Regions from separate parts of the Homo sapiens genome. Here regions 2 and 3 are each linked to region 1. Evidence: fine-mapped expression QTL. A gene starts in region 1. Each other region holds a variant in brackets. All regions are shown on one strand. Distances are from middle to middle. Region 1 holds the start of TDRD6 (tudor domain containing 6). Region 2 overlaps SLC25A27 (solute carrier family 25 member 27). Region 3 overlaps PLA2G7 (phospholipase A2 group VII).

The links. PIP is the estimated chance that this variant, and not a neighbour inherited with it, causes the effect.
Region 2: its variant is the best candidate, but not a certain one, in a credible set for the expression of TDRD6 in prefrontal cortex (CommonMind, PIP 0.57).
Region 3: its variant is the best candidate, but not a certain one, in a credible set for the expression of TDRD6 in macrophages (Nedelec 2016, PIP 0.87).

What each region holds. Positions count from the first base shown.
Region 1 is chr6:46,685,640-46,690,870 of GRCh38, reverse strand. TDRD6 (tudor domain containing 6) reads right to left here and starts at 2,986. Exons shown (of 4, transcript NM_001010870.3): 1 at 1-2,986. The coding sequence starts at 2,742. TDRD6-AS1 (TDRD6 and SLC25A27 antisense RNA 1) reads left to right here and starts at 2,706. Exons shown (of 2, transcript NR_134643.1): 1 at 2,706-2,937.
Region 2 is chr6:46,658,805-46,664,035 of GRCh38, reverse strand. SLC25A27 (solute carrier family 25 member 27) reads right to left here. Exons shown (of 9, transcript NM_004277.5): 3 at 4,990-5,074; 4 at 1,538-1,660. Among named protein-coding and RNA genes, the nearest start is that of SLC25A27, 8.4 kb to the right of the region's middle. The variant CA/A (reference allele first, on the strand shown) is at 2,651.
Region 3 is chr6:46,719,447-46,724,677 of GRCh38, reverse strand. It overlaps PLA2G7 (phospholipase A2 group VII), which reads left to right. Exons shown (of 12, transcript NM_005084.4): 2 at 1,753-1,895. The coding sequence starts at 1,787. Among named protein-coding and RNA genes, the nearest start is that of PLA2G7, 13 kb to the left of the region's middle. The variant A/G (reference allele first, on the strand shown) is at 2,886.

The sequences.
Region 1 (5,231 bases):
CCATGCATTATCTATAAATTCATTGAAAGCTTGTATTGCCTTTACATCCCAAACAAAGGGATTCTGGCCAACTGGTTGAATTAAATTATAAAGACTGCACCTAAAAGCCTGTGCCTTAACCTTCAGAAATTCTTCACTAATTGAATAAATATTCTTCACAGATACCATTTCTCTGTCTCCATAATCTACAAATGTTACATTGACATGCTCCACAGACTGTATCCCACTAATAAGTGCTCTGGACCACTGTCTGTTTACTGTTCGCTTAGCCAAACAAGCAAGGGTGTTTCTCTGGTGAGGAGCAGCTGTATTTTTGCAATAGTACTGAATATCAGACATTAGAGTTTTAAGTCCTTGTATGTTCCTGGTCAGCTGACACCAGAAATAGCCAGGGTTTTCAACATAAGACACTCTGACTTCTACTGTACTTCCAACTTCCAGCTCTCCTTTACTAGAGGAGCCTGGCTTAATTTCCAAGCAATTCTGCATAAGAGGAAAATAAACAGATGCTCTTTTCACTTTTTCCTGCACAACTAGTTCAGTTGAACCATTTGTTACAACTGTTGTGTCACTCAAAGCTTTTGAAACAGATGTGGTTTTATTCTCTCTCTTGGCTTTCTGCTCTCCTTCTCCAGTCTTGGCAAAAGGTATTTTGTTACTCTCCGTAGTAAAGTGGTTTGAAACATGCCCTGGGGAGTGGGCATTTACCAGGATATTTTCCTTTGTTTCAAATTCCTGATACTTGGCATATCCAGCTTGGGCAATTACCTTACTAATGTTTTCTTCCCCTGTTCTTGATTCGTCAAGAATCTCAATAACATATTGATGATCCTGTTTATCAAGAATATGGATGACTAATTCTTTGTGGAGCACAGTCTTTTTAAAAAAGGAAACTGCCTCCTGGCTCCAAGTTTTTCCCAAAGGCCAAATATCAGCCAGGGTGCACTTCACAGCCAATATTGGTAGCTGCCTAAACTGAGGAAGCAGCATCCTTACGTCATACCAGTCCACATTTTCCGAATTGCCTCGGTCAACTAAGAATACATCCACACTCTTGTCATCCAATTTGGTGACTATGGCCCTATAATAACCATTTTCTTTCCACTTGACACAGCAAAGGTCATCAGGTTCAGGTTTCAAAACTACACCATCCAGCTTACTGGCAGAGGAATAGAAACCACACATTCTCCTCATCAGCTTACTGAAGGTGACATTGTGTTTCCTCAACCTAATCCAAAACTCAGAAGGATTTTTAACAAACTCTACCTGCGCATCGTAGAAGGCATTCATCTTTAACCTGATAGATCTTAAGGCTGGGAGTGAAATCTCTTCATCTACTTCTTCAGCAGGAGACTGAGACTGAGATGTTTCTGGTTCCTCCTCCTCTGTTGCCTGGCTCTGAAGGACTCGGTCAGCCAAGCAACACGACTGTACTCCAAACACACGGTTCAGATTAATCCCATCTTCTCCATACAGGCTGACATAATACACATGCTCAAAGGAGCAATAAAATTCAATCTTTGCATTCACTGCCTTGCCTAGTATCAGTGTCTTCAGGTCACCGACCTGTGACCGAGACCAGCCTCTCCCACCGTCCCAGAGTCCATACAAAGCACAAGGGTAGGTCACCACCGGCATTCGAAAATATTCAGGCAGCAAGTACCGAAGGCTGCTGCAACTCACTAACTCCTTCCTTCCATAGTCCACATGAAGCACCTGGGCACAGCGCTGGGGCCGAAAAGTCTCAAGCAACAGTGCTCTGTACCAATGTCCATCCAGGCCACAGGATGCACACGGAGAGCCCGGCTTATCTGGGCTCTCCTCCCTCTCCTCCCAGGTGGCACTGGTAGAGTTCTCATCCCCTGTCCCCGTGGAACCCCGGTATACCTGGGCCATGCTCTCGGAGAGGCGGTGGATCTCCTGCGAGACGCTGCGGAGCTGGCAGTGAATGCGGTGGGGATGGCACACTTGGGTTATGACCACGGCCTCCGTCACGCCCAGCTGCAGCTGGGGATAGAAGTAATCCAGACCAGGCTGCTTTTGCTTGAGCGGGACTCGCGAGAGAACCGGGACCCCGGAGCCCACGCTAGCAGTGGCCGCTGTGAGATAGCGCTCCAGCAGCGAACGGAAGAGGCTGTCGGGCACCCGCCGAGCCAGGCCCAGCTCCCGCATCTGTTGGAACACATCAGGCACCTCCAGGAGGACCAGGCGATGGAGCAGCAGCACGTCCAGGACGCACCCGTGCACCTCCTTGCCCTGAAGGTTGCTAAGGAAGTCCACGGCGTCGGCGGGCCAGTGCTGCGGCGGCTCGCCTGAGCCCGCGCCGCAGCCTGCCGGCACCAGGCCCGCTAGCACGCAGCCCAGCACTTCCGAGGGCAAATTGAAGAACTCTCTGCGCCCAGGCGCCAGCGAGCCTGCTCCGGCCGTGATGGTGCGGCCCTCGTCCAGCAGGAAGACACGGCTCTCCTGTGCCTGCCGGCTGACCACGCGGCAGCGGTGCCACAAAAGCCCGACCTGCACCAGGCACAGCTCGCCGGGCGAGGCCGAGGCGCTGCCCAGCGCCCACTGGCCGCGCGTGGCCGCCGCTTCCTGGATTTCCCGGCTCAGCCGCAGGTACTCGCCCCGCCGCTCGCCCACCAGCCCCCACAGCTGCACCGGGATCACATCGGGATGCACGTCCACGAAGGACACCCGCAGGGCCAGCGAGGCCCCCGGCGCCGGCATTCCGGGCGTCGAGCACATCTTGACGGCGCGGCGCGGCCCCCACTTCCGGAAATTAAGGGCCGCGCCTCAGGGCCTCGAAATCCTCCGCGCCGCCTGAAGGCGAGTCCCAGCCAAACTAGGTTCAAAGGACCCAGTGGAGGGGAAGAATGCCGGCGAGGCCTTTTCTCGGCAACTCCCCCGTCGAGGGTCCTCCGGGACTCCCGCCACGGACTGGTAAGACCCGGTAGCCCCTCCAACCGCCCGAGGTCGCGCTTCCGGGCACGCATTTACCTCACTCGGCGCCGCCACTTCCGGCCGCGGAGAGTGGGCGGGGCCAGCCGAGGCCTGGGGTTGGCCTAACGCCTAAGGGCCCAAGGAGCTTGTTGGGACGTTCAGGAGACCCCGAGGTGGGAGGTTTTGGACACAACCTGCATCTCCTCAGAGCGCCTTCGACTCTGGAGGCCGCCGTGTGACGGCCTGACACAGGGCTGCGGTGAGGACCGACCAGAGAGGGATTTCCTTTTCGTCCTCCCAACTACCAGGGATTGAGCACTGGGGGCCAGGCAAGGTACTAGCCAGTGGCGTTCCCGACGGGAACGAGAAACGCAGGAGCCAATGGCACGTTCCTAGGCGTTAAGGCCGGAACTCTAGGAGGGCCCTGGGTGCTGCTGCGGGGCACGGGTGCTCCTGCTGGCTCAGTGTGTCCGTGGACAGCCAGGTGCTCAGCCTCTATTCTTTAACCCTGTTCCATCATCTGAATTGATAAGAGTTGTTATGAGGTTAAAATAACGTGTGAAAGTATATAGCAACTGGTACATATTTCCCTTCCCACACTTAGCTGATACGGGTTCCTTTGCTCCTTTGCTGTCTAACTCTGGCATCCCAATTTTGAAGGCATTTTCATTTACTCACAGAGCTAGCACAGAACTGGATTCATAAAAGGAGGCCAAGAGGAATGGAATCAACATTCCTTCAAGCCCCTGCTGTATATACTAAAATCTTAACAGGATAACCCTTTGAGGCCTCTGTTAAATGTCCAAACCTCCATTTGGAATGGAAAAGTGCAGGCAAACTAGAAGTTTCCAGGATATGTCTACATTAGATTTTTGTTCATTTGCAAAGTTAGACACATCCGTGGAAGCTTCTTATAGTCTGCCTGTACTTTTCCTTTCATTCCACGTTTCGAAATGTCATTACATACAAATACAACAAGGCAGTGCTTCAAATGACCCTGGCCTAACTGTAAATCTCAGTGTCTTCAGTCTGTCCAGATTAGAGGCAACCATGTGCTTCCACATCACCCTATGCTTACTTTTTCACGGCACTTTTCACATTGTGTGGCAACTGTCTGATCTCTATCATCCCACCAGCCGACAGGTTCCCTTTGGCAAGTACCGTTTGTTGGATTCTCGGAATCTAGCTTGGAGTGAAGGCAATGAATATTTGCTAAATGAATATGAATGAATGAATGAATGAATCCAATTTCTCTAAAAGCCAAAGCTTTTCTTTTCCTGAAGAACTCATCCTTGAAAACTCAATTTTCCCATTTTTTTTCTAATTGTTTCATATTCATTATGGAAGAAAAACATTTTATTTAAAAACATCTAGCAAGACCTAGCTCAAACGTCGTTTCCTCGTGACCCTACTATTCAACCTGGCAGAATTGGTTATTCCTTTTTTTTTTTTTTTTTACATACTTCTATATTATTATATTTTGTAGCTCTCTGTTTGCCACAGTAGGAACATCTTAAAAGCAGGAACACTTCTCATTTATTTTTATGTTCTCGATGCCTAGCCAGTGCTGGACTGTTAGCATCCAGTAAATCTTAACAAGAGTAAGCAATCTAACACTATGGCCTTTACAGTGGAAAGAAGGAATTCATTATAAAATGGTCTTATGATCACTTGAAATTGTTTTATCATTACATGGAATAATGGAGACTTTAATCCATCATCTATTTCAGGTTCATGTAGTATAACCAAACTCCTTTGTAGACCACAGGGTTGTAGATATTATGACTTTCTGTATTTCATTTGTCCTCCAACCTCCTTCCATGGCTCATGGCCTTAATCCTAGGACGTCAGGGTATATCACGTGGCCGTTATGGGCTGATCTGAATCCTTTACCCCCATCCACCCAGATTTTCCAATGTCCTACCTTTTCTGTATCTGGAGCAGGTAGCATTAGTTTGTTCTGTCATGCTCTGCTGTTGGACAGGGACTCGGGTTAATTTTAAAAATCAGGTCATTGCACTGTTAAGATTAAGCTCCCCTCATATATCTCCCATACTATATTAAACAAAATATCTTGAGTTTTATAATAAATAAACTTTCCTCCCATTAGTCTTGAGAGGCCCTTGGTTTCGGAAAAGAAGGGAGAGGGGATTTTTTTTTTATTATTATTGTACTTTAAGTTCTGGGACATTATGTACAGAACGTGCAGATTTGTTACATAGGTATACACATGCCATGGTGGTTTGCTGCACCCATCAACCCATCATCTACATTAGGTATTTCTCCTAATGCTA
Region 2 (5,231 bases), 27 kb after region 1:
TGGACACACATAATTGCTGTTATGATACATGAGAAGTTATGATCATGAATGATGATCACTGTAACTAAAATTTATGGAGCACTTACTAAGTACCAAGCATTTAATATACATGAGATGCATGTTAATACTGAAAATTCTGTGAGGTATATAATATGATTCTAATTTACATTCGAAGAAACCAAGGCTTAAAATGGGTAAGGAACTTGACTATGATTACAAAGCTAAAATATGGTAAAGACTGGCTTTGAATCCCAGGCTGTCTGATCTCAATGTTCATGCTTTTTACTGTAGTATATAACTTGTCCCCTATTACAGGTTAATATAAAGAGTTTGATTATTAAAGTGTACTACATTAGGTGCATTCAATCCAAAAATTTCCAACATTAAGAACAAAGAGGGGAAAAAAACTGAGTGATCAGTTAAAAACTCAGATATTCTGGATCCTAATAACCAGTTTTCTCCTCCTATCCAACAAGGCAGTGTGACTTCTCCCTGTTATTTAGTCATTAGAAGTTGTTATAAGATGACAAACTGGGCCCTGGGGTTCTATAAACTACTTGGTTAAGTCACAGTGGTACCCTTTTCTCCTGTGCTGTGCATATTCTCTACATGCTTTGAAGGCTGAAGGGGACCCTGGGCTGCAGCAGCCCAGTCTCCTTTTCCACTGAGTCAGCTACATGAAGAGGGGCAGACAGCAGTGGTCAGCGGTGAAGATGGCCCCAAACCCTCCTTTGCCTCTGGCTCAGCTGCAGACCTGGAGTGTTCACAGGAGCAGCTCCCTTTGTACTCAGCTCAAGTCATCCTGTAATTACCTTTTTTCTGGGAAAGGTCTATCCATCTGCATGATTTTGTCCCTTTCCCAGGGGAAACTAAGTGGTATTTTAATAAACTGTTGAACATGAAACCCTTGGAAGAAAGGTGGATTTTAGTAATATAGTGTAATGCAATGGGAGGATTTTATATCCCAAAGCCATATTAGGGAAAAAGAGGGCTTCAAGATGAAGGAGGAATGAGATTCAACAAGAAAGTTGGGACAATATGCAACGTTATCCTTGCTACTCTCTTTCTGCAGGAGAAAGGGAATGAAAGCAAGGTTTTTCACACTAATGAGCAGTCAGGCATGTTAACCATCATGACAGCCTTTTGAGCGAGTTTATAAAGATGAAAACCCAAGAGACCAGAAATGTTAAGTGACTTCCACAACACCAAGCCACAGTGGCAAAATTGAGATTCACACCAGGGCAAATTTTAATAATCAAACTGTTTATGTTAACCTGCAGTAGGGGACAAGTCTAGCCTTGGCTGGGAAAAGCAGCAAAGAACATTACACATATATAATTTGTCTGGTATAGAACATGTACACTTCCTAGTGCAAAGAAAAGATCCAGCTTAGTGTTCCTCTTAATGAACTTCCAGATTAAAAAAGTCAGAAGTAATATCTTTACTGCATACTGGATGATAATTCTATTAGGTACTTGTTAAAAATATGACGGTGGCCAAGGGAAAAAGAGAGGTATTGGTTAATTGGAGAACTTACCGCAATGGTTTTCCTTCCAGTTTCCTTTTTCCTTCCATTTGCATCTGAACCTTCACTAGGTCAGTTGGATTGGCTAAAAACTGGCCAATAACACCAGCCATCATCCCTCCAATGACTGATTTCCTAATTGCAGAAGGAAATTCTTTTTAAAGTTGCCATTAATTTCACGAATTTTATAGTGAACCAATACTGAGCTGGTACAGGGCCTAGGTAAGAGATTTCAGATCAAGTAAAGAAAAGGATATACCCAAGTAAGTCACAGAGTAAAGTAAACAGTTTGACTGTTTACTGATGGGAGGTTAAAGGAGTACAATGAGTGAAAATTTCAGGCCTTATATGGCCTGAAATCCAAAGGAAAGAGCAGTTGCTTCAAAGATACACACATCTGAATTGATAATTTAATTGTAGTTTAATTCCAACTACAGGGGAATAAAAACTGCATAGATGTAGTCAGCCTAACAGACAAAGGCTAGACTCCGGTCAACTTTAACCCAGATTACTGCAGTAGTCTCTTGGGGAAAATAAGCATTTTATTTCCTTTTACTTTAAAATAACTTGAAGAGCTACAAATGGGTATAAAAGAAAAGTCTCCTTCTGACCTCTATGTCCAGCTCCCCTCCAGTGAAGCAATCACAATTACTATTTTATTATATCCCTTGCCAGAGATAATAACGAATTCACTGAATGCTCATGTCAGGCACTGTTCTGAGCATTTTAAAAATACCATTTCATTCTCATATCAACCCTCATGACAGTGCTGTCATTCTCTCTGTCAGATGAGGAAACTGAAGCATAGAGCAGTTGAATGGCAGCTCAAATCACACAACTAATCAGTGGGACAGCCAAGATGTGAATCCAGACAGCCTGCATGCAGAGCCCACAGTCTTAAACACTAAGTTATGACTGACAGTTTGTGCATACACAAGCATATCTGTATAAATGTTCCTTTGTAAAAGCGCTAACATAGAATGTCAAGTTGTACAGTGTTCTGCACTGTTTTCTTAACAGCATATCTTAAAGGCTATCCCTATCAGGTCATATAGAGCAGCCTCATTCTTTTTAATAGTTTGACAGTATTTCATTTTATGGATATGCCATAATTTATTTAACGAA[CA/A]TAACTTTAAGAAATTTGAACATTTACATAACATTTGCTAGAGCCTGTCAAATTGCTTTCCAGAAAACCTTTATCAATTTGCACTTCCACCAACAACCTGTGAAAATGCCTGTTTCTCCACACAATGATGAGCACATACATTATCATATTTTTTCTCTTTGCATCTCTCATACCTGTTTCTCCACACAATGATGAGCACATACATTATCATATTTTTTCTCTTTGCATCTCTCATAACCACTCTTTTCTCTGTATTTTTTACATAATTCTAATTGTTTATTCATCGACTCTGTTACTGTAAGCTGAATGACGGCAGGACTGTTTCTTTTTCATTACTATAGCCTCAGTATTAAGTATAAGACTGGCATACCATACCATAATTACCCAATAAATACCTACTGACTGAATGAATTGTTCTGATTGGGTCAAAAGGACATTAAACCTATCCACCCTAAAAGTTCTGGTATAATATTTCCTTTGCACTTTTTACTTAAACCTTTCCCTTCTGGAAGAAATTCCAAAACGCAAGGACTATAAATCTATTCCATAATTGACTCTGGGAAAGCAATTAGTATAGCTTAGTACATTACAATTTTTCAAAAACAAGATAAAGAAATGTTGCCTGAAAGGTGAAACTCTACATATTGCCCCTTTTTATAGCTGTGACTTAGATTTTTTTAACCCTAAGAAAGATTTTATAGGCATCTTTCCATGTTAGTCATATGAAACCCACCTCATGCTTTCAATAGCTGTGTTATGCCATAAATATATCATAACCTACTTAACTGCTTCCAAATCAATAGTTTAAATTAAAAAAATAATTTTCTATCATCAACACTGCTACAGTCAATATCTTTGTGTCTGTCTTAATGCATATGTAGAAGCATTTATAAATGATTATAATCACAAAGGGGTTACACGTTCAAAAATGTTAACAAGTAATTTATGCTCCAAAAAGACTATAGTAACTTATATTTCCACTAACAGCTTAAAGTTAGTTTTAATTAATTTCCCTGATTATTGGTGAGTTTGAACATTTTTATGTTTAATGAACATGTATATTTCTTTTGTGAACTGCCTATTGGTATCCTTTCCTTATTTTTCTATTGTGCTTTCTCTCTCTCTCTCTATACACACACACACACACACACACAGACACAGAGGTGAAGAACAGTTTGGTATGTGCAGGCAGTGGAATCTTTCAGCTCATTAGTGCACCACTCTTTCCAAGAGAATCAATGAATTGCTTAGTTCTCTGAAGACACAGGCCAGATATTGCAGATCTTCTAAGTCACATTCCAAAATCTCCACTTTATTTTGTGGGTGATTAGAAGCCAGTGACAAGTTTTAAGGACACCAATAATGTGTTAATATCTGTGTTTCAAATAAATCACTCTGGATACCGGGTACACATTTGAGGATGGAGGAGGAGACGAGTTAGATGGCAGTGGTCCAGCTGAGAGGTTATATAATTTTATATATATAATTATATATATATATGCAATTTTTTATTTTTATTTTATATTTTTTGAGACAGAGCCTTGCTCTGTCACCCAGGCTGGAATGCAACAGTGCAATCTCGGCTCACTGCAACCTCCACCTCCTGGGTTCAAGCGATTCTCCTGCCTCAGCCTCCTGTGTAGCTTGGATTACAGTCCCCCACCACCAAACCCAGCTAATTTTTTGTATTTTTAGTAGAGACAGCGTTTTGCCATGTTGGCCAGGCTGGTCTCGAACTCCTGACCTCAGGTAATCTGCCCACCTTGGCCTTCCAAAATGCTGGGATTACAGGCGTGAGCCACCCCGCCCAGCGTGTGTTTTCTATATTTCTATTTATTTATAGGAGCTCTATGTATATTATTTTTAGTAACCGATTTTTTCAGTTTCCGTTAAATAATATACACTTACATTCATCATCTCACCGTGTCCTATAAAAACACTTAATGGTTTGTATTACTTCTATAGCTGTGAAAACTGAAGATAAAAAAGGTGAAGCAGTTTGTCCAGGTTATACAGTAGCAGAGCAGGAATTTGAGCCCATCCCTGTCTGACTCTAAAGCCGAGAGTTCTTAATAAAAAGAGGAATAAAAAGGTACTCTATAAGAATTCTTTCAACAGTAAAATACTAAATATCTCTATATATGCAATTTATATATGTATATACATGTATGTCTGTATACATCTGCAGTAAATGCTCAATTATCTGGACTTATATTGTAATTATTATTTTAAGTCCATAACTTAAGGCAATTTGGGTACAAATGTACAATTTTACATAAACCTAATAAACATTAAGGCATTTGGGGCAACAGCATATTATTTTCCAAACAAAACTTACCAAAGGGGATAATGCTCATCTTCACTTTTGCCAAACACAACCTCTCGGAGATGTTCATATGTGACCATTCGACCTCCAGAATACACTGGGTAAAAAAGATCATTAAAAAGGTAACTTTGGCTATATGTATCTATATGCTTATGTATGTATAAAATAAGAGGACATTCCGACATGGCCTAGTCAATCTCTCTAGCTGTGTCTTTGTCTCATGGGGCCGGTGCTTCTAACACGTGGGCTTCTTG
Region 3 (5,231 bases), 34 kb before region 1:
GTGTCAGGGAAAGGAAGGCATGAAGGAGATACAGTGACTCTGTTGCAGACGACTTCTGTTCAAATTTTTGTTTCTCAGGAATTAGCCCCATGGGCCCAGCCCAACCACAGGGGCGGCTAAGAAATGTAGGGAAGCACATAGATGTTCAGGAGCACTCATTGTCTGTGCCACACATCTATATTACATCTTCCCGCAAAATAGCTATACTAACGAGTGCTTCATTAGTGTCAGTGGGACACCGGATCATTAAACTTGGCTCGGTTTGTATTAGTAACCAGATGTGCTAGATTTATTCACTCAGCAGGCATTTACTGAGTGCCTCTGTACACCAGGCACTATTCTAGGTCTTGGGAATACAGCAGGGGGAAAAACCATCAAAAATCCTTACACTCACAGAACTAAGTTTTTAGTGGAAGGTGATAAACAACTAACAAATAACATACAAGGTACGTTAGTTGGTGATAAATATTGGAGAAAAATAAAGTAGGGAGGGAAATAGGGAATGTATTGGTGTGAAGAAGGAGGTTAGATTGCAATTTTAAATAGATTGAACCGGGAAAGTGTCACTGAGAAAGTATCACTGGAGCAAAAACCCGGAGGTGAGAGGACCAGTCATTTGGGTGTCAGAGCAAAGAGCATTCCCATAAAAGGGAACACATTCAAAGCCCTCAAAGTGGGGATGGAAGGTGGGTGTGGAGTACTTGGCATGTTTGGTGAATGGCAAAGAAGCAAGTGTGATTGCAGCAGGTGTCCAAGAGGGGCTAGGGGAAGGATTGGGAGTGTGTTGAGTAAAGGTTATGTAGATCATTATAAGCTATTTTGGGTGAATGGCTTCTCCCCCGTAACATATAACACCATTTGGGGGTTTTGTGCAGAAGGGTGACACAATCACTCTGGCTGCTGTGTTGGGGATAGATTTTAGGGTCAAGGGCAAAAGCAGGGAGACTCGTTAGAGGTGATGGCAAATTTTAGGTAAGAGATGATGGTGGCTTGGACCTTTTCTATCCCCCACAAAAGTTGAAGGGCCAAATTTTAGGGGGGAAAATGGATGCACAAATGCAAGATAGTTTTTGCTAATAAGATGTTAGCATACAGACTAATTATAATTTATTATTACCACACATCTCATATTCTCTTGTTTCATTTACTGATTCAACAAGCATCTATGCAATACTACTTCTTCCAGGCCCTCTATTAGGCACTGAGACAACAAATAAGACCTGACTTCTGCTTTTTGGAAACTTATATCATAGTAGGATTATAGAAATTAGCAAGAATATAACATCATATTAACACCCAAAACAACCACAGCAGCAGAAATATAGTCACTATATAATTAAATGATGGAAATAGCCAAAATTTATGAATTATTTACTATGTGCTAGACATACCTATGGATATTATTATGATGATGACAGATGGTTGTTATATTTGTTATATTTTGTTGGCTATTTTTATAGCTGACCATACTGTTATAAAGTTAGAAAACTAGTGACCAAAAACTTAATCTAACTGTCTGAAAGTATTATTTCTCTGCTCTACAATCCAATGTAATCCTTAGTAATGTAGGTAATGGTAATCCTACATTACCAAGGATTTTACCATTGTAGTACCAATCTAAAACCCAGCACAGAAAATACATGTTTTATTTTTTCCAAGTGTTACTAGTACCTCAGCCTTTCTTGATTTGTCAGCTTATTTAAGGCCTCTTCATTGCATACTTCTTTTTTCTTTTAATCATCTGCTTCGAAGGAGACTAAGCTGAAACTGCTGCTCAGCTCCCAAGATGGTGCCACCCAAATTGCATGTGCTTTTCTGCCTCTGCGGCTGCCTGGCTGTGGTTTATCCTTTTGACTGGCAATACATAAATCCTGTTGCCCATATGAAATCATCAGGTAAGAGGTGTATTTGTTCAAGGTCTTGAGCAACTGATCTGTCGCCATACTTCAAGTGGGCCCCAAGAAGTTGCACATCTGCACATCTAAACAAGTCCTATTTAAAGGCTTATGGAGATCCTGTATTCTCCTGGAGTAGGGGAGAGGTTCTCACTTTTTCCTCATTTCAACTGAAATTGAAGAAGCACTTGTGTTCTTCAGTATCAGGACTGCAGGACAGAACCAGGATGGGACATTTTAAGATATACTGGACGCTCAGCTTGCAATCACCACGGAGAACCTCCTTAATGCCACCCCTTCTCTCTCTGACTGCCCTAACGCATGCCCACACAAGCATAGTAATGCAACTGGTCTGGAGTCCACTCCAAGACAGCCTCAAAACCTGCTTCCATGAGGTGAAAAAGAAGCAGGTGTCTTGTTCAACAGGCATACTCCTGGTTAATAGTGGAAAGTCATGTGAGATAACAATTTCAGGTCTTGGGATCCAAAAGGAAACAATCTTTCCTACCTGATAATAGAGAGAAGTAGGGACAAGTAGGTGCTAGGGAGTTCCAGATGAGAATGGATGTGATCACTCATTCTTTCTTGCCTTGTGGTAAGTGGGGAAAGAAAGAGGTGGAAGGCATAGACTAACCCAGGAGGAGTGGCCAAAACGGGACAGCCATCTTTAGACGGCTACATTTAATGTCACTAAGAGAGACCTTAATTGGAAAAAGATTGTTTCTGGAGCTTTGCAAATTCCTGCTCATCCCAGAGGATTGTGATGCATAAACTTCTCTTTCCAGTCTCCTATGGAGAGCAGTGTAGGTGGCTTCTGAATGGTGTCATACTGACTATACCTACAGAGCTGTGCACCTGGATAGTTGTGGGTCACTCTGGATCTAATTGTTCAAGCTTGATGGGTGACTCCTTACGATAGCATTTGCAAAAGAGCTTTCATAATTCAGTACCTTAAATTTTGCCCTACTACATAAGCAGGAAAATGAATGC[A/G]TTAGGAGAGGTTTTATATCTTATATCTACATTTGCATAGGAAATAGAATAATATCTCACAGGTCCATTCATCCTATAACGCATCAGGAAGTTAAGTCATCAAGGATACACTGGTGACTAAGACAATAAATGTGTAGTCAAATTCAAGGGTCCTGCATCCTAGATGACATTAAGTTCATTTTTCCTACTACCTTTTTCATGGATTGAGAACAGGTAATATCTTAGATGGTGGGAAAATCATCATTCGGGAAACATTTATATCCTTCACTTTTAATTGGTACAGGGTAAAAATTTAAACATTTTTAAAATCCCTTTGTCTTTAAAAATAATTGGAAGGCTGTTGCTGGACTGACAGAAACTTGAGGACAGGGACGTTGCTTTATCTTTATAGTCCCAGCATTGAGCCCAATGCAATGCCCATTCTAAATGTTCAAAAATGAATGCAGGCCGGGCATGGTGGCTCGTGCCTGTAATCTGAGCACTTTGGGAGGCCGAGGTGGGTGGATCACTTGAGGTCAGGAGTTCGAGACCAGCCTGGCCAACATGGTGAAACCCCGTCTATATTAAAAAAAAAAATACATAAAATTAGCTGGGTGTGGTGGTGCACACCTGTAGTCCTAGCTACTTGGGAGACTGAGGCAGGAGAATTGCTTGAACCCAGAAGAAGGAGGTTGCAGTAAGCTGAGATTGCACCACTGCACTCCAGCCTGGGCTACAGAGCGAGACTCTGTCTCAAAACAAACAAAAAAAGAATGCATATATATTGGTTTAAAGTATTAGAAACAGTTTATTAAATAAGATTAAAATAATAGGTGATTCTTTATAATTTCTTACTAAATGAATACACAGAAAATATGGCTATGCAGGTTAAAAGGTTTGTAGGAATGGGCTAGAGATATCCTCTTTACTAATGGAGGACATAAAGCCATATAAGAGTGTAATTGTCCTAGCATGTATACAGTTCATCTCCAAACCCAAGACTGAACATCAGGAATATTTGACAAATGAAAACCACCAAAAATATGTAATAAAATTAATAGCATGCCATAGGTTCCAATCCTCCTATTAAAATAAAGTTGAAGAAAACTAAGAAGAGACATTTATAAATTCTGAACCACAAAACTGTGTGAGTGGTCATTTGATCTGATGAGTCTCCTCCTTCCACTTCCTTAATGATGACTCCTGACAGATGGTTAGAGAATGGGAAATCCAGGCCCATAACCGGGTCAGCTGTAGGCTATGGAGCCTGTTCCACAGCCACCCCCAGGCACCCTGGCACTGGTGCATAGGACCCCATAGACCTATACCAAAACCTGGATCAGCCTGATGATTCCTGAGGTCTTCTCAGAGGTCAGGTGTCCTGGAACAGGCAGACCTCACCTTGACCTGAATGCTCCTGAATGCTGAGTGAGGAAACTTCCCAGGGAGAACAGGTGTTGGACAACCAGGGCACTCCTAACTTATTGGAAAATGTTCCCCTGTCCTTTGGAATTGAGATCTCACAAGCGGAGGCTTGTGTTGGGTGAAACCCTCCCATGCCTCCAGAACTGAGCCTCCAATTCTAGAGGTAGTGTCTCCAACAGCAGCTGTGGCCCTGGGGCTCCTTAGCGAGTTGTGTGAGCCAGAGGTCTCCCTGCAGCAAGCCCTGCACAGGCACACCATGCCTGCCTAGGGGTGGGGTTGCAGTAGCACCAGGCTGCTTACCACAGAAGAAGAAGCAGGTGTCCCTACCTTAAGGTCCTCCTCCTTGGGACTTCACATCTCCCTGTTACACCAGAAGCATGGCTCAGTAGATACTCTTTTAATGGAAGAAGAGCCTTTTGTAATTCAAAATAGACCCTGAAAGTTCACCTTGCAGGTAAAGTTTAAAAAAAAAGTTTCTGGGGTTTGAATCTACCTGGGGAGAGGTTAGACCTGCTAAAACTTCCCTAAGGACTCAGCACAGATTTACCTAGCAAGAGTAAATGGACTCTGGGGAAGGAGTAAACAGCATTATTTGTCTACCCCTTATGTGTCATGTTTTGTACTAAGAACTTGACCTACATTCTCACCTCATCTTTACAACTGTACTGTGGGCTGGTCAAGTGCTTTTATGTCATTTTACGAATGTGGATCAGAGAGGGGAGCAACTAGGCCAGAGGATTATAGCTTGTAAGAGGTACACCTGAAATCTGAAATAGAACCATGTCCCTCCAATTCACAGGGTTTGTTCATCTCCATCCCCTCTCCCCTTGCCTTTCTTGAAACTACCTCCTACCATTTGACCATGGATTGCTGACCTGTGTGTCAGGCAGGTGGTCTGGAACTTCAGCCCAGTGTCTCTTAAACTTTAATGGGCACTCCTTT